7 linked regions of the Homo sapiens genome follow. The protein of the gene in region 5 purifies or fractionates together with the protein of the main gene of each other region. This does not show direct contact. Each region holds a gene or a part of one and is shown on either strand. Other genes may lie near its edges. The genes, in order: KDM4D, SMCHD1, KLC1, VTI1A, TRPC4AP, RBBP6 and RNMT.

The links.
Region 1: the proteins of TRPC4AP (region 5) and KDM4D purify together in Homo sapiens (affinity purification with mass spectrometry; 2 studies listed by BioGRID and IntAct, with this or other methods). This does not show direct contact.
Region 2: the proteins of TRPC4AP (region 5) and SMCHD1 purify together in Homo sapiens (co-immunoprecipitation; 3 studies listed by BioGRID and IntAct, with this or other methods). This does not show direct contact.
Region 3: the proteins of TRPC4AP (region 5) and KLC1 purify together in Homo sapiens (affinity purification with mass spectrometry; 2 studies listed by BioGRID and IntAct, with this or other methods). This does not show direct contact.
Region 4: the proteins of TRPC4AP (region 5) and VTI1A purify together in Homo sapiens (co-immunoprecipitation; 2 studies listed by BioGRID and IntAct, with this or other methods). This does not show direct contact.
Region 6: the proteins of TRPC4AP (region 5) and RBBP6 purify together in Homo sapiens (co-immunoprecipitation; 3 studies listed by BioGRID and IntAct, with this or other methods). This does not show direct contact.
Region 7: the proteins of TRPC4AP (region 5) and RNMT purify together in Homo sapiens (affinity purification with mass spectrometry; 2 studies listed by BioGRID and IntAct, with this or other methods). This does not show direct contact.

What each region holds. Positions count from the first base shown.
Region 1 is NC_000011.10:94,980,209-94,983,708, reverse strand, and holds part of KDM4D (lysine-specific demethylase 4D), read right to left. Parts: intron 1-3,500. UniProt on the Homo sapiens protein: Histone demethylase that specifically demethylates 'Lys-9' of histone H3, thereby playing a central role in histone code. Does not demethylate histone H3 'Lys-4', H3 'Lys-27', H3 'Lys-36' nor H4 'Lys-20'.
Region 2 is NC_000018.10:2,658,726-2,662,225, reverse strand, and holds part of SMCHD1 (structural maintenance of chromosomes flexible hinge domain-containing protein 1), read right to left. Parts: intron 1-3,500. UniProt on the Homo sapiens protein: Non-canonical member of the structural maintenance of chromosomes (SMC) protein family that plays a key role in epigenetic silencing by regulating chromatin architecture.
Region 3 is NC_000014.9:103,698,628-103,702,044, forward strand, and holds the end of KLC1 (kinesin light chain 1), read left to right. Parts: exon of another isoform or gene 1-170; coding exon of another isoform or gene 171-390; intron 391-505; coding exon of another isoform or gene 506-552; intron 553-736; coding exon of another isoform or gene 737-949; intron 950-2,027; coding exon 2,028-2,099; coding exon of another isoform or gene 2,100-2,100; intron 2,101-2,573; coding exon of another isoform or gene 2,574-2,576; 3' UTR 2,577-2,917; downstream 2,918-3,417. Other genes in the region: DNA repair protein XRCC3, read right to left, coding at 171-390, 506-552, 737-949. UniProt on the Homo sapiens protein: Kinesin is a microtubule-associated force-producing protein that may play a role in organelle transport. The light chain may function in coupling of cargo to the heavy chain or in the modulation of its ATPase activity.
Region 4 is NC_000010.11:112,816,730-112,819,244, reverse strand, and holds the end of VTI1A (vesicle transport through interaction with t-SNAREs homolog 1A), read right to left. Parts: 3' UTR 501-2,515; downstream 1-500. UniProt on the Homo sapiens protein: V-SNARE that mediates vesicle transport pathways through interactions with t-SNAREs on the target membrane. These interactions are proposed to mediate aspects of the specificity of vesicle trafficking and to promote fusion of the lipid bilayers.
Region 5 is NC_000020.11:35,086,308-35,089,807, reverse strand, and holds part of TRPC4AP (short transient receptor potential channel 4-associated protein), read left to right. Parts: intron 1-3,500. UniProt on the Homo sapiens protein: Substrate-recognition component of a DCX (DDB1-CUL4-X-box) E3 ubiquitin-protein ligase complex required for cell cycle control.
Region 6 is NC_000016.10:24,567,066-24,570,565, reverse strand, and holds part of RBBP6 (E3 ubiquitin-protein ligase RBBP6), read right to left. Parts: intron 3,424-3,500; coding exon 3,061-3,423; intron 2,775-3,060; coding exon 2,673-2,774; intron 1,822-2,672; coding exon 67-1,821; intron 1-66. UniProt on the Homo sapiens protein: E3 ubiquitin-protein ligase which promotes ubiquitination of YBX1, leading to its degradation by the proteasome.
Region 7 is NC_000018.10:13,754,173-13,757,672, reverse strand, and holds part of RNMT (mRNA cap guanine-N(7) methyltransferase), read right to left. Parts: intron 460-3,500; coding exon of another isoform or gene 314-459; exon of another isoform or gene 1-313. UniProt on the Homo sapiens protein: Catalytic subunit of the mRNA-capping methyltransferase RNMT:RAMAC complex that methylates the N7 position of the added guanosine to the 5'-cap structure of mRNAs. Binds RNA containing 5'-terminal GpppC.

The sequences.
Region 1 (3,500 bases), on a different chromosome or scaffold from region 5:
TTTACTGGTGAAGTCAAGTAATTTTTCACTGATTTATTTCTTTTGTGGGTTTCGGTTTTCTGAATTACCAGTTATACCTTTTGCCGATTTTTTCCAGTTAAATTGCTTTCTTTTTCTAGTGATTTTTAAAAGTTCTTTAAATGTTTGGGATAATTTTATGTCTATTGTATTGTTGCAAATAACTTATCTCAGCACACCACCTCCATTTACTGTTTATGTTTTTTTGATATTTGAAAAAATTAAATGTAGTCAAATTTATTGATCTTTTCCATTATGATTTGTGCCTTTGTGTACTATTTAAGTAATCCATGTATTCTTTGGGGGTCAAAAAGATCATATTTTCTTGTCATTGTTTTCTTTGCTTTTCACTTTTATTTGTTTTGCCTATTTAGAATACTGTGTGTTATTGTAAGAAACAGAACTTTTTTTTTTTTTTAAGAAATCCAGTTGTTTGCCACCATTTTCCCCATTCAGTTGGAATCCTTTTCTCACATATGCTAAGTTACAATGTAAGGATAGATGTCTTTCTAAACTCTTCATCTGGTCCATTTATTTATTTGTACATTTCTATGCCAATGTTAGATTGTTTTAATTACTAAAGCTTTATACTTAGGATAATTGGTAAGGCAAGTCTCCATGTACTTATTCAACTTTTTTCAAAATTATCTTGGGTATATTTATAGAGTAAAACTTCAGTATTCATTTTAGAATAAATCTGTCAGGTTCTGTCAAATACTGTTAATTTAAATTGGGAATGCATTGAAATTAAAGGAAAATTAGAGGTGTATTTTCATAGCTCCTGCATTGATCATTCCCACCAATTAACTGGTATATTTATACATTTATTCAGATCTTGTTGCATGTATATCAATGAAGCTTCAGATTTGCATCAAAAAGATAATGAATCTGTTTTCTTAGATAAAACCTTAGGAACTTTATAATTTTTTGAGTGTACTGTACATGGAAATTTTTTTCTATTAAGTTTTCTTATTATTTATTGATCTTACATCCCTTTTCAAACCTTGTACCTCTTATTTCCTATTAGTACTATTAGCTTGGCCATTAATTCTAGAATTTTCCACGTAGATAATATTTTCTAGGAAAAAATCATAAAAATTATATCTCTTCTTTTTTTAATAGTCATGTCTCTTTTTTTTTTTTTTTTAGAAATAGGGAAGTCTTAAGTAACTAGATATGATCTCTAGCAAAATGCTGAATGTTGACTGAGTTGGTAGAAATTCTATACTCATCTAAGATTTTAATAAGAGTGGCTCTAAACTTTGACATTAATTATATCCTATCATTTACCATCTAAGCTGAGACACTTTTGAGAATAACAGAGACCCAAGGATGACAGGCATAAACCTGGACCCTACTGATCAAGCAGTTAAAAAGCAATAGTCATATAAAATTCAGTTCTGCCGAGCTGCAGAATATATATTTTTCCAAGTTCTATAAAAAATTTACAAAATTAACCATAACTGTGGCCATAAAACAAGCTTTAACAAATGTCAAACGGTTGAGAACAGTCAGAATATGTTATTTGACCACAAACAATGAAGTTAGTAATATCAAAATGATAACTAAAAAATTCCCAAATTTATAAAATAAAAAGTATATTTCTAAATAAATTTTTAATGAGAAAATAAAAAATGGAAATTAGAAAATATTTTGAACTAAATGAAAATACTACATTTCAAATCTTGTAGGATGCAGGTAAATAGCATTAAAAGGGAAATTTATAAATTTAAATAAATATTTAAGAAAAGGAAAAAGGTTAAAAAAACTAAATGAGCTAAGCACCCATCTGAGGAAGTCAGAAAAAAGTAACAGCAAAGAAAGAAAAAGAAGAGAAATAATAAGAGACCAGAAACTGATGAAATAAAAAGCCAATATAAAATATGATGAACAAAACCAAAAGTTGGGCTTTTTTAAAAAAGTCTAATAAAATTTAAAAGACTGGTGAAAATGAGGAAGAACAAAAATAGAAGGCACAAATAACCAATATCAACAAAGATAAAGAAGTCATCACTACAGATGCTGCAGACATAAAAGAGACAACAAAGAAGTATAAACAACTTTATGCCAATACAGTTTAACATTTCAATGAAGTAAATACATTTTTAGAAAAATATAACAGTGATACTGACAAAAGAATAAACAGAACAATAAATATATCCATAACCCTCAAGGACACTGACGCAGTAGGTAAAACTCTTCCCAGAAAATATACTCGAGGCCCAGATGGCTACACCAAGAAATTTTAGTCAACATTCAAGAAAGATATTCCAATCTTAGATAAATTTTCTCAGAGAATAGAAAAAGAAAGAATACTTCCCAATTCATTTTATGGTACGAATCCCCAACAAGGATACTATGAGAAAAGAAAATAGGTCAATCTCGCTTATGAACATAGATGGAAAAATCCTAACTGAAATCTGAGCAAATTGATTCCAGCAATATATACATCATGACCTAGATGGGTTTATTCCAGTAATGAAAGGATGAAACTTTAAAAAATAATAGTGTAATAGCACATATTAACAAACTAAAGAGAATCTCATTAGATGCAGAGAAAGTATTTGATAAAATTCATCAATTCATCATTCTTTCAGCAAATTAAAAATAGTAGGCAAAAATCTTAATGAAGTGCATCTATCCAAAACCTTCAGCCAAATCATACTTAATAATGAAAGTTATACGTTTTCCCTTGCAGATCAGGAAAAAGACAAGGATGCTTGCTATCAGCATTTTTATTCAACATTATCTTGGAAGTCCTAACCAACATAAGAAGGCAAGGAAAAAAGAAGGAAAACAGAAAAGGAAGAAACAAAGCTGTCACTATTGGCAGATGACATGATTGTACATGTGACAAAATCTGAAAGATCTCTGAATAGACCCTTTGAATTAATAAGAGAGCTTAGCAAGTTCTCTGAATTTAAAATAGCTACATATAAAAATCAATGATATTTCTACACACCAGCAACAATGAGACAACCAAAATTTAAGGAAGACGCCATTTATAATAGCATTAAGCATTAAGTAACAAGACTAATGCTAACAAAAATTTGCAAAATTTCTATGAAGACAACAATATGAATGTACTTAGAGAAGCATATTAATATAAACTAAAGACATCCTAAACAAATGGAAAAATATAACCTGTTAATAGATTTGAAGACTTAGTATTGTAAAAATGTCATTACATTTTTAAGAATGTTTTCTTAATCTGTAAATTAAATATTATCACAATTAAAATTCCAAAAGTATTTTTGTGGAACTTGACAATTGGCTCCTGAATTTTATAGTAAAGTCCAAAGGGCCAAGAATAGCAAAGCCACTCTTATAAAAGTGGGACAAGGTAAGAATATCTGCTCCATCGGATTTCAAGGCCCCTTCTCCAGCATGCCACGCACAAAAATGAATTTCATGTGCAGCTATGAAACCTTTAGAAGATAATACCTGAGAATATCATTATGACTTCCCAAGTAGGGACATTC
Region 2 (3,500 bases), on a different chromosome or scaffold from region 5:
TCTTTCTTTCTTTCTTTCTTTCTTTATTTATTTATTTATTTATTTTATTTTTTTTTTTTTGAGACGGAGTCTCGCTCTGTCGCCCAGGCCGGACTGCGGACTGCAGTGGCGCAATCTCGGCTCACTGCAAGCTCCGCTTCCCGGGTTCACGCCATTCTCCTGCCTCAGCCTCCCGAGTAGCTGGGACTACAGGCGCCTGCCACCGCGCCCGGCTAATTTTTTGTATTTTTTTAGTAGAGACGGGGGTTTCACCTTGTTAGCCAGGATGGTCTCGATCTCCTGACCTCATGATCCACCCGCCTCGGCCTCCCAAAGTGCTGGGATTACAGGCGTGAGCCACCGCGCCCGGCCTTTCTTTATTTTTTACAGATTTTTTTGAGTACTCTTCTACGATAACTGCATATAATAGTTCATTTAGCCTTCACTAACTACATAGAAGACTCCCCCTATTTCCTAGCTGTCAAATTATCTACGGATAGGAATGCTAGCACCTTATTCTCTTCTTCAAACAATGGCAACCGGGTTATCGCTCCTGACCATCTAATTGTATCCAGTATTGCCTGTATTTTCCTGCACTGGAGCAAATAGTTCATTTTCTTTTGATTTTTAACCCATATTAAAAACCCACAGATGTTTAATCCATATTAAAAACCCAGATGTTTAATCCATATTAAAAACCCACAGATGTTTAATCCATATTAAAAACCCACAGATGTTTTTTAATCCATATTAAAAACCCACAGATTTCTAATCCATATTAAAAACCCACAGATTTCTAATCCATATTAAAAACCCACAGATTTCTAATCCATATTAAAAACCCATAGATTTTTAATCTATAAATCTACTATTATTCAATTAAGACACACAAACTATCTTTTTTTTTTTTTAAGTTCCTGGATACATGTGCAGAACATGCAGGTTTGTTACATAGATATACATGTGCCATGGTGGTTTGCCACACCTATCAACCTGTCATCTAGGATTTAAGCCCCACATGCATTAGGTATTTGTCCTAATTCTCTCCCTCTCCTTGCCTCTTACCCTACAACAGGTCCCTGTGTGTGATGTTCCCCGCCCTATGTTCATGTGTTCTCATTGTTCAACTCCCACTTATGAGTGAGAACATGCAGTGTTTGGTTTTCTGTTCCTGTGTTAGTTTGCTGAGAATGATGGCTTCCAGCTTCATCCACGTCCCTGCAAAGGACATGATCTCATTCTTTTTTATGGCTGCATAGTATTCCATGGTGTATATGTGCCACATTATCTTTATCCAGTTGATCATCAATAGGCATTTGTGTTGGTCCCACGTCTTTACTATTGTAAATAGTGCTGCAATAAACTTTAAAATTAATCCATATTAAAAATCCATGGTTTTTAATCCACATCAAAAATCCATATGAAATATCCATGGATTTTTCATCCATATTAAATATCCATGGATTTTCCAGGGGGCATGGTGGCGCATGCCTGTAATCCCAGCACTTTTGGAGGCCGAGGTGGGTAGATCGATCACCTGAGGTCAGGAGTTCCAGACCACCCTGGCCAACATGGTAAAATCCCATCTCTACTAAAAATACAAAAATTAGCCGGGCATGACGGCTGGTGCCTGTAATCCCAGCTATTTGGAAGGCTGAAGCAGGAGAATCGCTGGAACTTGGGAGGCGGAGGTTGCAGTGAGCCAAGATTGCGCCACTGCACTCCAGCCTGGGTGACAAGAGTGAAACTCCCATCAAAAAAAAAAAAAAAAAAACCATGGATTTTTAATCTATAAATTTATTATTATTTAATTAAGACACATAAACTATCTTTTTGTTTTCCCTGCTTCATCTATAAAAATTATTTCTTGAATTCACAATTTTTCTAAGTATTTTATTTTATTATTGTTTGTTTGTTTTTTGAGACAAGAGTCTCGCTCTGCCACCCAGGCTAGAGTGCAGCGGTGCGTTCTCAGCTCGCTGCAACTTCCGACTCCCGGGTTCAAGTAATTCTCCCTGCCTCAGCCTCTCGAGTAGCTGGGATTACAGGCACCCGCCACCAGATCCAGCTAATATTTGTATTTTTAGTAGAGACGGGGTTTCACCATGTTGGCCAAGCTGATCTCTAACTCCTGACCTCAGGTGATCCGCCCGCCTTGGCCTCCCGAAGTGTTGGGATTACAGGTGTAAGCCACTATGCCGTCCCCAACTTCTCTTAAATATTTAAGGACTAACTGACTTGCAGTGCATAAAATGATTACCTACCAAAATGATCAGTTAATTTTATTTTTAAAATTATTTTTTCACTATCTCTGAACAACAGGTAATTTTCATCCATGGATTAGTCAGAAAGCACACAGCTTAATTAGCACTGCTCTGAAACTCTGCAAACTAGTCAGCTTTTAATGTGGCTCCATTATATTTCGTTACCTTACTATGGCACTTGCTAAGCCATAGTTTTCTGCTTTTTTTTTTTTTTTTTTTCAAAATCTCAAGTTTATTGTAGAAATTGATGAGCACATCTTATATTAAAATACAAAACACCTAGAATAGCCGCACAACAAAAAACATTGGAGCCACACAAAGGAAAATGTAGACAATTTCTTCAAATTGGTGGTGGGGGGATATGCACACATGGGACTTAACATCTGGGCATATTTTAGAACTAACCAAATGAGTCATCTTCTAATCGTTGATTCTGCAAGGCCACAAGGGCTCAGGTGAGTCAACAGCTGCTTATCAGAGGTCTAAGGGCTTCTTGCAGATTTGTCCTTTCCATTTCTTCCCTCTCCTTTTCCATGAGGTGAACTTTATTCAAATAACAATTTAGAGCTGGGCGTGGTGGCTCATGCCTGTATTCCCAGCACTTTGGGAGGCCAAGGCAGGTGGACCACCTGAGGTCAGGAGTTCAAGATCAGCCTGGCCAACATGGCAAAACCCCATCTCTACTAAAAGTATTAAAATTAGCCAGGCGTGGTGGCAGGCACCTGTAATCCCAGCTACTCAAGAGGCCGAGGCAGGAGAATCACTTGAACCTGGGTGGCAGAGGTTGCAGTAAGCCAAGATGGCACCACTGCACTCCAGCCCGGGCAACAGAGCGAGACTCCGTCTCAAAAAAAATAAATAAATAAGTAACAGTTTAGGATCACCCATAATACTGCCTGACACTACAAACATTTATTGGTTTAATTTACATTTTAACAAAAACTTTAGTATATTATTTTGTCTCTTCCCCTAAGGACAAAAGTGATGGTTCTAATAAATAGTGTGGAGTAGTGTAAAAAATATATATATGTGTGTGTATATATATGTGTATATATGTGTATATATGTATATATGCGTATACACGTATATATGTGTATATATGTGTGTATGTGTGTATATATATGTATATATACATATACATATATATACACACACACATATATATGTATATGTATACATAAGCTTTGGAATCAAATTGACCTAAATTCCAATCCCAGTTTCACTGCTTGTTGACCATGTAATCTCAGATTATTAATT
Region 3 (3,417 bases), on a different chromosome or scaffold from region 5:
GTCAGTCTGTGGCCACCATCTTCGGATGAGAAAGTGGAGCCGCTGCCCTGGAAGAGCTGTGTCTGAACCAGGCTCCCAGCTGTGCCACGGCCCAGGCAGACGCGTTTTAAAGGCCCGAGCCCCGTGTGTCGGGGCTTCTCAGGCAGGGCTGTTGTGCAGCCGCCACCGTGTCAGTGGGACTGGGTCCCAGGTGTCCCTCGCACCCCTTCGGCACTGATCGTGTAGGAACAGGAGGAGGGGGGCAGGTGGGGGGCAGAGAGCACCCGCAGGGTCCGGGCTGGGCAGCCGAGGGCAGCCTCTTCCTCGCGGAGCCGGTCAGCCAGCAGTCTCACCAGGAGCTGGTTAGCCCAGGTTATGCCAAGGGCTGGGGAAACACGTTCGTCCCAGAACCTGAGAAACAGGAAGCAGGCAAGCTGGCGCTCAGGCTTGGTGGCCCCGCCCACTTCGGCCCAGCTGTGCCCCTGGCACCTGCACAGAGGTGCACACACCACATGGCTGCACTCACCCCAGCGGCCCGTGTGCTGCGCCCTGCTCCTCCATGGCCTCTGTCACCTGGAAGAGCACAGTCCAGGTCAGCTGCAACGGCTGAGGGTCTTCTCGATGGTTAGGCACAGGCTGCTACCCGCAGGAGCCGGAGGCCACCTCACTGCCACCCGCCCCACCTCCAGACCGGCTCTGCTTCCGCATCCTGGCTAAAAATACGAGCTCAGGGGTGCAACCCTGCCTTGGTGCTCACCTGGTTGATGCACAGCACAGGGCTCTGGAAGGCACTGCTCAGCTCACGCAGCGTGGCCCCCAGGGACTGCAGATGCCTGGCCCTGGGGGCGGAGGCCTGGCTGTCAAATTCACAGCGGAATGGGGCTGCCACCGAGTCGATGACCACCAGGCGAGCCATGCCCCGAGACAGCAGTACGGGGACCTTCTTATTCACACACTCCAACAAGGTGTCCTGTGGGGACAGCTGTCATTGTCTATGCTGGTCAGCAAGTCCCCGCCCCAGGTGACCAGACCCCGTTTGGACTGTCACTCGACCGTCTGAAAACCTTCCTACCCACCTGGGGCTCACAGTGCCCATACTCTGTAGTCCCCATACTCTGAGCCCAATTCTGTATTTTTCTCAAAGAGGCCCCAACTATAGAAGCTTCAGGCTCACACAACTGGTTCCCTTGGCCCCATGTCCTTCCTCTGGCCCCCCCAGGCAGTCACCCCTTGGCTGTGCCAACACCGTCCTCTGTAGAGGTGTCCTTTGCGCAGGCTCCTGAGTCCTTGCGGGGGTCTGCTCTCCTTCTGCCATGGTTTCACCCTCTCCCCCTCACAGGTCAGCAGCAACCAGCCCCCTCCTTCAGTGGCCCCGCACCAGGTACTCAGACCACCCAAACCTGGCCACAGTGCCACCAAAGCCAGCCCGTGGTGGCCATGACCTCTTCAGACGCTCAGCAAGGCAGGGGCCTGATGCCCTTCAGGCGTTACTCAGGCGAGTCAGGCCTGGCCTGCCTCTGCCAAGGCGTGGGGCACTCTGGGAGACCACCTGGGGGTCAGGATGGGGCTGTAGGTTGAGACACCCTCAAGGCCAGTGCCTCCCGTGCATCCAGGCCTTAGCCCTGTGCTCTGAGCTGGCCTGGCCTGGCCAAGGGGTGGAAACAGCCCTGTGCCCACCAGCTCCCAGGAGAGCTTCCAGGGGAGGACCCCCCCAGTGAAGGCAGGTGTCCTCGGCCTCCCTCTGGGTGCTGCCGTGGCCTGTGGGTGCCAGAGCCATTGGCATGGCTGGCCTGGCCTCTGACCGCACAGCTTGGTGAGCCATGGTGATGGGGGAGGGTGACACAGCTGCTCCTGGCACCAAGCAGTGTAGTTCAGGCCCCACGGGCCTTGCCAGCAGCTCTGGCCAGATGGAGGCTGCTAAGGGGCCCCTAGGCTGTCCCTCAAGTCCAAGGTCTGCAGCCACACGCTGGTGTCACGCCCGGAGCTCTGAAGACGCCTGAGGGCCGCCTGCACGCCCTGAGTGAAACTCGTCTGTGCTTCATCTCCAGGGCGTCTCTGGCCGAGCCTCTTTTTGTGGAAAACGACAGCAGCAGCAGTGGCCTGGAAGACGCCACCGCTAACGTGAGTCCCACGGCCTGCAGCCCCAGGAAGCAGGCAGCTGGGCCAGGGAGGGACTTTGCACATGCAGGGACTGGGGGGAGCTGGGGATGGGCAAGTGGTGACTGCTGCTAGCTGCCAGGCTGGGCCTCCAAGAGGGGCTTGGCTCAGGGTCCCCATCCTCATGCAAGCCCAAGGGCCACAGAGTGGGGGGGTGGGAATGGCACCAGGCTCTGCTTATGCAAGAGAAGGCTCTGTGTCCACACCCCTGGCTTCCCCCGTGCCAGACGCAGGCCTTTGGTGCTCCAGGGAGCAGAGACCAAAGACGCACCAGTCCCCCATGACCCCTCGGCCCCAGGGAGGCTCACAACCAGCAACACCCTCTTCTCTAGGCAGACTTGGGGTGGGGGTTCCCCAGAGAGCTGTTTCCAGAACAGAACTTAGTAACACTGTCAGGTTTTGGCGGCCCAGCCCTGACCTTCTATCTTCTCTTGCAGTGACCCCGACCTGGCCCCGCTCCAGGATGGGACTGCCGAGTGTGGCCCGGAGCTGGCCCGGGACAGCCAGGGCGGCAGGGAGGGCCCCTGGCCGGGAGCCGCAGCGCTCACTCATTTCTCCTGCGTCTGTGTGCATAGGACATGATACTAATAACCACACGGCTGGCGTGACCTTGGGGCTGGGGCTGGGCCTAAGCTGGTGCCCTGGTGCGGCGTGGTCTCTCCCAGGAGACCTGGGGCATGAGCTGGGCCCACGGCTCCCTTCCCATGTGTAACTTCCTCACGTTGTGTGCGATAACGTATTTTATTGTACATTTTTTTAAATTAAAAGTTTATATGCCTTATGCTTTACTTGAAAGTTTTTATAAGACCTCTTAGAAGTGGGGGAAGGCTGGCGGGCGCGGTGGCTCACGCCTGTAATCCCAGCACTTTGGGAGGCCGAGGTGGGCGGATCACCAGGTCAGGAGATCGAGACCATCCTGGCTAACATGGTGAAACCCCGTCTCTATTAAAGATACAAAGAATTAGCTGGGCGTGTTGGTGGGCGCCTGTAGTCCCACCTACTCTGGAGGCTAAGGCAAGAGAATGGCGTGAACCCGGGAGGTGGAGCTTGCAGTGAGCTGAGATTGCACCACTGTACTCCAGCCTGGGCGACAGAGCGAGACTGTCTTAAAAAAAAAAAAGAGAAGTGGGGGAAGGCCCACCCAGGAGCTGCTCTGCCAGGCCACAGCCATGTCTAGGGTGGGCTGGACATGGCAGCCGCTCCCCCTGCACAGGGTGGAATTTCCTTACTTGCCTTTGGTCAGGGGTTTACTCCCAAACGTCCCATCTTTTCTTCTGCGTC
Region 4 (2,515 bases), on a different chromosome or scaffold from region 5:
ATCATCACTCCTAGTTAATTCTCCACTACGTAGACAAACTGCTATTAATATTTACGATGGGAAATTTCATTATTTAAAAATTCTGCCCTAAATTTCCAGCTCACTCCATGAAGAACGCCTGCTGAACAGGTTGCAAATTAAGAACAATTATTTTTCTCTTCTGCATTTGAATACAACTTACAGCTAAAGTCATTTAAAGGGGTTAACATCAACCTTAATTAAATATTAAAGTGTGCCTGTACCTGCTGCTATTGTTGCCCCTTCGAATAAGATATAACCTATTTTTGACAAGTTTTCATCTTTCTCTGTGGAAGACGCTACATGAAACCAAATCAGTGGCAAAGAGGAGAGTAATGAATAATCTATTTCATATTCCAACAGTACCCAGAGCTCGGAGTGGAAAAATATTCAGTCAGATGATGGCAAGAGGCTGCTTGGGGTACCACATGACACAGCTAATGTTTAAATAATAATAATAAAAAAAAGCGATAAACAAATCATTAGCCCTTAACAGTTGTTTAATGCAATTTGTTAATGAACGTAATGGTGGGGACTAATAATGAAAGAAAATAAAAACGTCTAAACAGGCGCCAAGTTGCTGGCAATGCGCAATTATTTCCTTGTCAAGTTTTTATGATTTAATGAGCCCCTCTGGGACTGACGGCTGTCAGTCAGTCGTGACTTTTTGACACCATTACAACTTCAAATACAGCAGCAGGCAGGCTGTTTTCCTCGGATTTGAAATACTGAAATGATCTGACAGTTTTAAAGAAAAGATGTGCAAAAAAAAAGGAGAAAGAGAGGGAGAGAAAGACAGTTGCTTTTCCTTTCTTTCTTTTTTTTCCCCTCCCTTCTTCTATGGGTTGATAATCTCTGGATGCTGTTTGGTAATGAAAACCCAATCACTGAGGTCATTATCTGATGAGGTTTTTGGAACAGGCAGGCTTTTTTCCCCCTCTTTATTTCTTTACTTAATGATAACCCTCAATGGGCTTGCCCCGCATGGGATGGCCAGAGCCGCACAATTTTGTTCACCATTAATTTCAGCCTTTGAAGCTCAGGGCTCAGAAGCAGTAGCAAAGCAAACCCCCCACCAAGCTGGTTCCAAAATAAGACAATCCAGCCTGCCTTAAACAGAATAGCAAATGGCCTCCCAGCCCAGGCCCGGCAGCTGACGTCAGACCCACTGCATTTGCAGGCATTCGCCTTCAACACGGATCATTTAAAACTCTTTACAACTTAAGAGACTTTAATTAAATTGCTTTTGATTCTGGAGTGGGGTAGCATCCACTTTATTTATTCTGTCAGGGAAACTGTTTAGTCTGCATGAATTTTATATGGCAAGGGCTTCCTTCTCTTCTTCCTCCTCCATGCCTTCATCTTCCCCCCAACCACTCCCTTAAACATCATTTTTAACAAGGGCTCCCAACTTGAGAAATATTCGTCAAAGTCTACACACTAAGTACCTAGAACCTCTCACAGATCTACTTCACTATCTGCTTCAAGTCTGTGGACGTTATTCCTTTCCTGGTGGGGCAGGGAAGGAAGGAGAGCAATTGGCCTCTGCTGGGGATCCCCTAAGTCTTTTCTGCAGTGTCCAGGAGGACCAGGAAGGAGTTGAGGGAACCTTCTGACCAGCTTCCTCACAAAGCACTCACTAGCCTGGCCTAGGTAGTTGCTCTCAAGGAGGTTTGATGGAGCTGTTAGGCCAAGGGTTATCTGTTCATATTCTTCCCACTCCCAAGGTTGAATTGGGGTAAAATCACAGGCAAGAGCTGATAAAGACATAGAACTTGAACGAAAAAAGCTATTGAGAGGTGAGCAATGCCCTCCTCCTTTCTCATTTTGTCTGCTTCAACATGAACGCCAGGATTCAGTGAAATATTCAGGAGGCGGCCAGTTTAGATGATCCGATCAACCTTGCTTGCTAGGTGGCCTTGGGAAGAGTCTGCTGCATTGTGGACGGGATGGCCGTGCGAAGTGCAGCTGGTAACTGGTTATACACTTTAGCTAAGATCAACAGTTTTGAAGGAAGCCACCAGAGGGGCTGGTGTAATACTCGATGACTATTCGTGTGTCGGAATGAGAAAAGGGTTGTTTGTTTGTTTCCTTGCTTTTTAATGGTTCTTAGATGTGGTCAGCACGTACAGCATTCCGTTATCAGAATACAAGATTCTTGCTGAGACGGATCCCTTAAGCTGACAGGAAAATTAGCATAGCTTCCTGCTCCTTCTCTGTCCTGCTTCCCTCGGCCAAAATCCCACACCATCCCTCCGAAGTAAAGGCTGCAGCTTTATTTACACAATACTAAATGATTTATCCGAACACATGCAGGCCTTGGCCTGTTTCGATAAGTGCAATTTCTCTGGTGGATTCTGCCATTCTGCATTTCCTCTCTAAACCATAATGGTTTTCTTCTGAGTTGGGAAAAATATCAAGCACTACATCCAGGTGATATTGATCCACGGGCACAGGTGGTTAGCATTTTTGATGAAGAGAACAGGTTTGCTTTTCA
Region 5 (3,500 bases):
GTGGCGCAATCTCGGTTCACTGCATCCTCCGTCTCCCGGATTCAAGCAATTCTGCCTCAGCCTCCTGAGTAGCTGGGATTACAGTCGTGTGCCACCACACCTGGCTACTTTTTGTATTTTTAGTAGAGATGGGGTTTCACCATGTCGGTCAGGCTGGTCTCCAACTCCTGACGTCATGATCCCCCTGCCTTGTCCTCCCAAAGTGCTGGGATTACAGGTGTGAGCCACTGCGCCTAGCCAAAATTTTTTCATTGTAGTAAACAAATATATAATATAGGCCAGGTACATTGGCTCATGTGTGTAATCCCAGCACTTTGGGAGACCAAGATGGGATGATCACCTGAGCCAGTTTGAGTCAAGCCTGGGCAGTGTGGTGGAGCCCCAGCTCTACTACAAAAAAAAAAAAAAAAAACATTAACCAGGTGTGGAAATGCATGCCTGTAGTCCCAGCTGCTCAGGAACCCGAGGTGGGAAGATCGCTTGAGCCTGGCAAGTCAAGGCTGCAGTGAGCCATGATCACACCATTACACTGCAGCCTGGGCAACAGAATGAGACCCTGCCTCAAACTATATACATATATAAATATATATATGTAAACATAAAATTTACCATCTTAACCATTTATAAGTGTATAGGTCAGGCCCAGTGTGGTGGCTTACACCTGTAATCCCAACACTTTGGGAAGCTGAGGTGAGCGGATTGTTTGAGCCCAGGAGTTTGAGACCAGCCTGGGCAACATGGTGAAACCCTGTATCTTAAAAAAAAAAGGTGTATAGTTAAGTAATGTGAAGTATATTCCCATTGTTGTGAAACAGATTTCCAGAACTTTTTCATCTTGCAAATCTGAAACTACCATTGAACAACTTCCCATTTCTCCCTCCCAGTCCTTGGTAACCATTCTTCTCCTTTCTGTTTTTGTGAGTTTGACTACTTTAGATAACCCCAGTATAGTAATACAGTATTTGTCTTTTTGTGACTGGCTTATTTTACTTAACATAATGTCCTCAAGGATCATCTGTGGTATAGCATGTGATGGAATTTCCTTGGAAAAAAAAATCAGATTTTAAAGTAAGGTGGACCTGAATTGAATCCTAGCAGGGTGACCAAGATTAAGTTATTTAACCTCTCTTAACTTCAGTTTCCTTATTTCTAAAGAGGTGATGATAACATCTATCCCATAAAGTTGTTAGGAGGATTAAGTGAAATAATATGTTTTAAAAGCGTAGCCAGTGTGGCATATAGGAATAGTTGTTTAGTAAATAGTTGCTCTCAGCTAGTAGTTAATTAGACTGGGCTTCCTGAAGAGACTGTGTCTTATTTTTCATTGTATCTGCAGAGCCTGAAACCTTGCCAGCCATTTGATATTCAGGAAATTGCTTAAATTGAAATACTGTGTCCTCAGTCTAATTTCTGTCTGTACTTGCCAAGCAATCTCATGGCTTTAAAGAGTTCCAGAGTCAGATTACCTAGGTTTGAAACCTAGCTCTGGTATTTACTTACTATGTGTCTTTAGGCAAGTTATTTAATCTGTTTATGCCTCAGTTTATTTATTTGTAAAGTAAGTATCATAGGACCTGACCTTCCAAGGTTGTGGTGAGGACCAAGTGAGTTGTACATATAAAGCACTTAAAATAGTGACTGAAACATACTTTCTCAGCTATAAGTACATAGCTTACTGCTATAAAGATTAGCTTGTATTGTTATTAATAACTGCTCTATACGCTGACGGATCCTAAGTTTCTGTTTCCATTCGTGTTTCTCCTTTTAGCTCTGGATGGGTAGGTATATCCAATTGCCTTCTAGCATTTCCACTTTGATGTCTAATGGGCATCTCAAACTTAGTATGTCGAAAGCCAAAATCCTCTCCCTTTTCCATCAGACCTGATCTTCTCCATCTCCCTAAATGGGGCATAAGGGAAGCCTGAGTCATGACTACTGGCCACATAATTTGTAATGGGTCAATTCTACTTGGATTTTAGTTTGCTTTATTTTCTTCCCTTCGTTTTGTTCTGCCCTCTGTCAAGGCAATAAAATATGCTGGGGTGATACTTTGGAGTTTACTGAGCCTTTTCATATTCATCAGCACATTTGATGCTTAATGCAAATCAGATCTTATAAATCCTTTGCTTAAAACTCTCCAGCCTCATCTCATTGCAGTTGATAGAATCAATTCTGGATTCCTTACCATGGGCGTACAAGGCCCCAAATGATCAGTACGAGTTGAAGGAAAGGATAGACTGAGTAAACGCTGGGCTCTAGGATAGTGCAGCTCACATTACAGGTCATGACCCGCCATCCCTGGATGCCCTTCAGTTTGGCAATCTGGTGACAGACTGGGTTGTGGGATGCTGTTATATTTCCCACATGGCAGTCGTTGCTTCCTTTATGATTATTGGCATATCTAAATGCCCCTGAGTGTTCCTTACTTTATATTTTTTCTTTAGATTCACTGACTTTTTTTTTTTTTTTGAGATGGAGTCTCGCTCTGTTGCCCAGGCTGGAGGGCAATGGTGCAATCTCAGCTCACTGCAAGCTCCGCCTCCCAGGTTCATGCCATTCTCCTGCCTCAGCCTCCCGAGTAGCTGGGACTACAGGTGCCCGCCACCACGCCTGGCTAATTTTTTTTTTTTTTTTGTATTTTTAGTAGAGACGGGGTTTCACCGTGTTAGCCAGGATGGTCTCGATCTCCTGACCTCATGATCCGCCCACCTCGGCCTCCCAAGGTGCTGGGATTACAGGTGTGAGCCACTGCGCCTGGCTGACTTCTTTTTTTTGTGAGATGGAGTCTCGTGCTGTTGCCCAGGCTGGAGTGCAGTGCACAGTCTCGGCTCACTGCAACCTCCGCTTCCCGGGTTCAAGCGATTCCCCTGCCTCAGCCTCCTGAGTAGCTGGGACTATAGGCATGTGCCACCATGCCCGGCTACTTTTTGTATTTTTAGTAAAGACAGGGTTTCACCATGCTGGCTAGGCTGGTCTCAAACTCTTGATCTCTTGATCCACCCACCTCAGCCTCCCAAAGTGCTGGGATTACAGATGTGAGTCGCCGTGCCCAGCCAGATTCACTAACTTTTAAAAAAAATTTCATTAGGCACTACTTGTTTTAGCCTCATTCTAACCATTAGTATTTATGAAACCTAGGCATTTAAGTCAAACAAATCTTACCTGGCTTTTCAAAGGTAATTTGATACTGAAAAACTCCTGATTAGGATAAAGTCTTATTCATATATATATACACACACACACACACACACACACACACACACACACACACACACACACACATATATACACACACACACATATATATACACATATATATATACACACACATACACACACACACACACACACACACACACACACACACACACACACATATGCCATTCATTTCAATGGGAAGTTTTCGTATTCACAAGCCCTTAAATTTGCTCCTAATTTTACTGAATCATACCCCATTAAAGGACACAAAAGTATTCAGTGGTTAACATGTATTGTCAGAA
Region 6 (3,500 bases), on a different chromosome or scaffold from region 5:
ATGGATAAAACTGAAGAAAATCCTTCTCCCAACAAAGTTCCACACCCACCCCCTACACTCAGCTACCTGGTGTAATCCACCAGAGTTGAGCTGGATCCTTCAGTTCCAGTCACTTTTCGTCTGACCTTTCCTTTGACTTTTTCTTGTTTAACTTTGCTAGATGTTGACTCCAATTTTTCAGAGGGTTCTTTTGTGTTTGATATATTTTCTGTACTTCCAATTTTCTTCCCAGTTTCTCTGTTGAGTTTGATTTTTTTGGCTGGCGCACTTAAAGAAATTTTGTCCTTTTCAGGGGTCCTATCCATTTTTTCAGTATCAGGTTCCATTTTGCGCTTTGGTGATGGTTTCACTATTTCAGTCACTTCTAGTTTCGAGATTTTCATTGAAGAAGACTCAAAATCTTTATCTACGCCTTTTTCTTCAGTTTTTCTTTTTCTTTTTTCTCCCTTATTATCAAGTGGTTTGTTTTTCTCATTAGGCTTCTTGGCCTTTTCTTCCTTAGTTGTTAGCTTTTCTGATTTGACATCTTTGGAATAGTCCTTCTTCACTTTTTCCTCTTTGACTGGTTTTGTTTCTTGGTGTTCTTTTGCTGATTTAGAGTGAGCTTTTCTGGGGGTTCCAGTGATTTTTTCATCCTTCTGAGAGGAAGATGATGATTTAGTATTGTCAGTCTTCGGAGTCTCCTCTTTGGCTTTTTTAATTGGAGGTTCAGATCGAGGAGATCTCTCACGTTCTCCATCTACTTTTTCTTGGGGTCCTTTAGCAGGTTTTACAATATTTTCTTTTTTGGACACAGCAGATCCATCATTCTTCCGTTTGGTTTTATCACCCTTTGCTTTTGGTTTATCCCTTTCTCTCTTGTCTTTTTCAGACACTGATTTAAAAGTGATTGATTCTGCATCCATTGGTTCATCTCTAACAGGTGTGGCATCATCTCTACTTGGGAGAACAAACAATGAGTCTGTTTTATTTTCTTCAACACCTGTAGGTTCTCTTGATTTCCTAGAAGTCTCTAATAACTCTGGGTTCAGAAAACCCTCACTTTCCTCCCCTTTTCTTCTTTTTCTGTGTTTCTTATGCTTATTTCCTTTACCATCTCCTGGAGCGTTTTCACTCTCCTTCTCTTTTGACTTTGTATTATCCTTCTGATTGTGACCATCTCTTGCTGAAAGCTTTTCTGGATAGTTGCTACCTATGTTTCGACTTCTATGACTTTGCCCACCAACATAGTCTTCTCTGCGGCCTCTTGTGAAGGGAGAATTCCTGATGTTAAGTGGCAAAAATCTCTCTGGAGAAAAGTTCTCTCTATTTGCTGAGGGTCTAGGCTGTGCTCCAGCAGCATAACCTTTATAATATTTTTCATACCACTCTCTATATTTTCTCTCCCATTCTCGGTAGCGTTCTTTTTCAAATGGGTCTCTAAAGTCAACACTTCTCCCATAATATGCTTTCATGTCATATGGTGGTGGAACTTCTCTGTATCTATTAAAATATTCACGTTCTGTTTCCCCTTGAGGTACATTACGTTTATTAGGAGACTGTCCCCTAAACGCTTGAGGAGATCTTGATCGTGAATGATAGCGTCTGTAAGGGGGTGACCTTGACCTAGATCGATGATATCCATGAGATCTAGACCGTGAACGGTAATTGCGGCTCTTGCCTCTGCCTCTTCTGGGGTATGGAGGTGACCGTGAATAGGAACGAGAATGTGAGCGGCTGAATGATCGAGAATAAGAGCGTGAACGTGTTGAACCAGATCTTGATTTAGAATAAGTATATGAACTTCTTGAATACGAAGAACCACTATAGGGAGATTTAGACCTAAAAACAAAACAAAACAATAGTTGATAGTTGAGAAATACATACAAAATAAAACACAGACTCTCAGATTCTAGCATTCTTTCCTCACGGTTTCATCTATCTTTATATCAAATTTCATCTTAGATGATTAAAGAGGCACAGTGACCTCTACTGGAATGGAATAAAGTACACAAATCGGAGCAATCACTTGTTACAAAACAAAAGTGAAGTCTTAACAATTAGAGTGAAGTGCATTAATGTACCGTGAGTTATATGAGCTAACTAACATTAAACAAAATGTCAATTAATTTTAAATTTCACTTCCTATCTGAATATTGAAGTAGGAGTCTGTTTTTTGTCCTATACTGGCCAACAGCCTAGTTTTAAAAGAAACCACATTTCAAGTGTAAGGCTAAAAAATAAAGTCTTTTAAACAAACTTCCAGGGAATTTTTATAATTCACTTTTTCTATCAATAAAGCGATCTGTATTCTACTACTACTTCATAATTACGCAGGTTAATGTTCCAGCAAGAAGCTGTAGCCTTATGGTAAAAGGGTCCTGGGAACTGTTTTTTGGCTATTCCCCTATTTCTTTCCTTCCAAAAACATTTCCCAATTATTTGATACTATGAATAACTTTAAGGGACAAGGGCAATTTAATCCCCACAACTGTTAGTTCTACACAATAAAATTTACACTGAGACATTATTTCAATGAACAGATATTGGGAAATAAGCTACATCTTCACTTCTATACACCTAGACCGAATCAGAAAAATTCCTAAGTGCAATGTTCTTTATATCCATAGCTAATCCCTGGATATTCAAAGTCCCGTTTGTAATTCTGTTGTGAAGGCTTGCAAAACACTAACCTGGAAAATGAGCGCCTACGCTCCTTTTGAATCTTTTTGTATTCCATCAATTCCTTAGCAAAATCATTTGTAAACTCATCTAGCTTGGACTTTTTCTTTTCCCTAGTAAAATAAAGTTAAAGAGTGAAAGTTAACAAAAACCATTTAAGAAAACTAACAAGACAAATGTAATTAGATCATGAATGAAATGAATGAAATTGCCATTAGTTTTCCACTTTAAAACTATAAACTAGGAATCCCTGAGAAGTTGCTTGTATGGCTTTGGTTTAAATTTTAGGTGAATTTCTCATACTAACTGGAAACACTGGAAAACGTTTCCAGACACCTATTTAATGTTATTATCAGAAAATGAAAAAAGTGTATAATAATTTCAAATTAGAATACATACTCTTCTTTTAGTCGTCGCTGCTCTCTATAGAATTCTTCCCTGGACAAAGGTGGTGCTTGTGTTGTTGGGATGGTATTTGAATGAGCTGTCTGCACTCCTGATGATACCCAAGGTGTTGATAAATTGGCAGGAGCTGGAGGAAACCCTGGAGGAGGGACACTATACCCAGCGGGTGGTGGCTGGCCAGGAGGAAACTGAGGAGAAAACTGTGGAGGAGGAACACCCGGAGGGAGAGGAAGTGTATGGGGAGGAGGCGGATACAAAGGAGGTGGTGGAACAGGTACAAAGACTGGAGTTGCTGGTAGTGACGGGCCTTGAGTCCTCTGTGATCTTTCGCTGTGGTGTCGCCCACGGTTTATACTTCTGGAAAAATAAATTCCAAGATATTACTTCTTCAAACTAAAGTCATCTGAGACAAGTAAGCTTATCTCTTCTATCCA
Region 7 (3,500 bases), on a different chromosome or scaffold from region 5:
AAGGGGTTCAACACATCAGTGGAGGAAGTAGCTGCAGACGGGATGGCAACAACAAGAGAACCAGAATTAGAAGTGGAGCCTGCAGATGTGACTGAATTGCTGCAATCTCATGATCAAACTTGAACAAATGAAGAGCTGCTTCTTATGGATGAGCTTGAGATAGAATCTACTTCTGGTAAACACATTGGGAACATTGTTGAAATGACAAGGATTTCGAATATTAATATTACAAAAACTTAGTTGATAAAGACCAGTAGGGTTTCAGAGGAGTGACTCCAATTTAGAAATAAGTTCTACAGTGGGTAAAACGCTATCAAACAGCACTGCATGCTACAGAGAAATCTTCTGTGAAAGAATGGTCAATCAATGAGGCAAACTTCATTGTCTTAACTGCCACAGCCACACCAATCTTCGGCAACCACCATCCATCAAGAGTATTTCCGCCATGGAGGAAAGACCCTTCACCAAGCAGAAAAGATTCAGATTCACTGAAGGTTCAGATGATCATCAGCATTTTTTTACCAATGAAGTATTTTTAAATTAAGGTATGTACATGGTTTTCAGACACAACACTACTACACACTTAACAGACTACAGTAAACATAACTTTTATATGCACTGGGAAACCAAAAAATCTGAGTGACTTGCTTTATTGTGGTGGTCTAGAACTGAACTTGCAGTATCTCCAAGGTATGCCTGTATATCTTCTAATAAAATACCAATAGATTTTAGGGCAAGAAAATACCTGCAAAGGTGACAAATCCTGCAAACATCACAAGGATGTTTGGGGCATGTGCTAGGATACTCAACAGTGAGTCAAGATCAAGTCCATCTAAGCTGGAGGCCTCACTCCTTGAGATGACTTCTTTTGAAGGGAGGGTAGATGAACACAGCTAACTGCCTGATGGCCTCCCAAGACTCCAGCTTCTTGCTCTTCCAACCCAACTTGTACAGGAACACCATAGCAGTTTTTCCAAAATACTACTTTGGTCACCTTATTTACCGGTTTCCAATTTCTTTTAGTTGAAATGAAATGTGGCTAGTAGCACAGCGATAGGACAGAAAACAGGCAGGGTGTTCATCAATTCTGTGGTTCTTGCCAGAAGGTAAGGAGACAAAGCAGTCCCCAGCACTTGCAACACATCAGCGTGCACAGCATGTCAGCACTCACAGCTGGCCAGTATCACTCATGCTGTCCCCCACTCTGTGTGACCTTTGTGCAGCCCAGCCCTGCCAAATCCCACCCCCCACACACCCATAGCAATTGCAAACAACCCCTCAGTCCTGTCCTGTCCTCATTTAGGGTCATTTGAAACCACTAACATGCTAGAGTCTGATTTTCAATACATAATAGCAACTTTCTTTCTAACTTGAAACTCCTAAAAAGTCCCACTTATTGTATAAAATGCCTTCTATGCAGGCATTTCAATTGGGATTTAAAAAAATCAAATCGTGAACCACTTCCACTTCCAGAAATAAATCAATAGCAATTCTCTCCTTTCTCATTTAAAGCCATCTTCTAGAGGAGCAGCAGCTCTGGTGATAGCTTAATGATCAGACCAGTAGAAGTCTAAAATGTAGCCTGGGCCTTTTAGACTCGTGATGGCATGCAAAATACGCTCAACCCACGAAGCCCTCTAGCTTAGAACAGAGCAATTCATCAAACAGCCAAACAATCCTGGGGTGCTACACCCGAGGTGCAATTTGGCCACTGCTCTCTTCGCATGTCCAGCCCATCTCTTCCAATTGTCTGGGGCCATCTAATTTTTCATTTGTACATGATGACTAAAGTCCACACTTAATAATATAAAAATACAGTTCTAAGCCACAGCCAGTACCGCCATCATGATGACTCGTGATCAAAATTTACACTCTACTTTGGGACCAGCAGGATGTCTAAGACAGGCAACCAGTCTCCACTGCAGGGAAAAAGTAATAAAATCCATAGTTTATGCACATGCTCACCAGTGTGTCAAGCATGATCGTATGTGTATAACATCCTCCAGTCCGATTTCTAGTAATAGTACCAATGTTCAAAGACAAATAGCCTCAAAATACTGGTCTTGCTTGACTCCTTTCCTCTTCTTCTCTATCCAACTCAGGAAGTCTTACTAGATTTTCCTTTTGCCAGGCTTCCATGAAACCATAGTTAAAATGACAGATCACTTAGGTAAGCTAACCACAGGTTAGCTCTGTGATCTTAGCTAAGTTGTTAGTCTTCTCATCTGTGAAAGGAGATATAATACTCTACTCATAAAGTCATTGTGAGGATTAAATGAGTTACAACATGTGAGTTATTACAAGGATTAAAAACGTTACACGCACCTGCACATGTTCAACACTCAGTAATATCAATATTACTACATCCCAGATGTCATTAGTTTAGTTTTCATTAAGCTCTCTTTCACCTTTGTGCCCCACTACAGTATCATTAGCACTTAAAAATTTGCCTAGTAGTGTTTATTTGTGCCTGTTCCTTCCATTACAGTGTAGACTTCTAGAAGGTAGAGATTTAACATCTTTATTTTACTTTACCTTTCACAGAACTTCACGTAAATCAATAATGTTTATCAAATGGATTGTCCTTAATGACCACTTGTGCCTCAACATCACCAACAACCATGTAAGGGGATTCCTACAGTAACAATGAGGCTCTGCAACCTGACTTCCTCAACACCCACTGCTGAAGAACCACAGGCCTTCACAGATTTGCTGTGCTTCTGGCTTCTCTTCTGAACACAGGAACCTCACTTCAGAATATCTTTGCACCACATTTGTCCCCTATCATGCACACCTCTAACACATCCTGCTCATGGATGTTTCATTGAATGTTCTAGTATTATTATGCCTTCACTGTCACATCAGAGTGGCCAAATAAAAAAAAGACATGCAAGTATTCTATAAGCCAAAAATTCCAGTAGAAATCTGAGGTAAACACTTCAAATGGAGATGGCTACTTAGTAACAAATAGGCAATGAGAATGTTTACACATGCTCACTCAAGTTTATGCTGAGGAAGACCCTGTGTACAGTGTATCTTCTCTTGGCACTACACAGCTGTGCAAGAAAGGAGGATTAGACATATGTAGAGATATACGTATTTGTGTGTGTGTGTAAACACAAACACAACCTAAAATGTCAGAAAAACTCAAAGTTTTCAGATTTTTTTTTGAGAGTCTCGCTGTGTTGCCCAGACTGGAGTGCAGTGATGTAATCACAGCTCACTGCAGCCTTGACTTCTCAGGCTCAAGGAATCCTCCCACCTCAGCCTCCTGAGTAGCTGGACTACAGGCACATGCCACCATGACTGGCTAATTTTTTTGTATTTTTGGTAGAGACAAGCATTTGCCATGTTGCCCAGACCGGTCTCAACTCCTGGGCTCGAGGAATCTGTCTGTCTCGGCATCCCAAAATACTGAGAGTACTGGTGTGAGCCACAGTGCCCAGCCTTTTTTCAGGTTTTAATGATCACTTTGAAACAGGACTTTTGAAATTATCAGT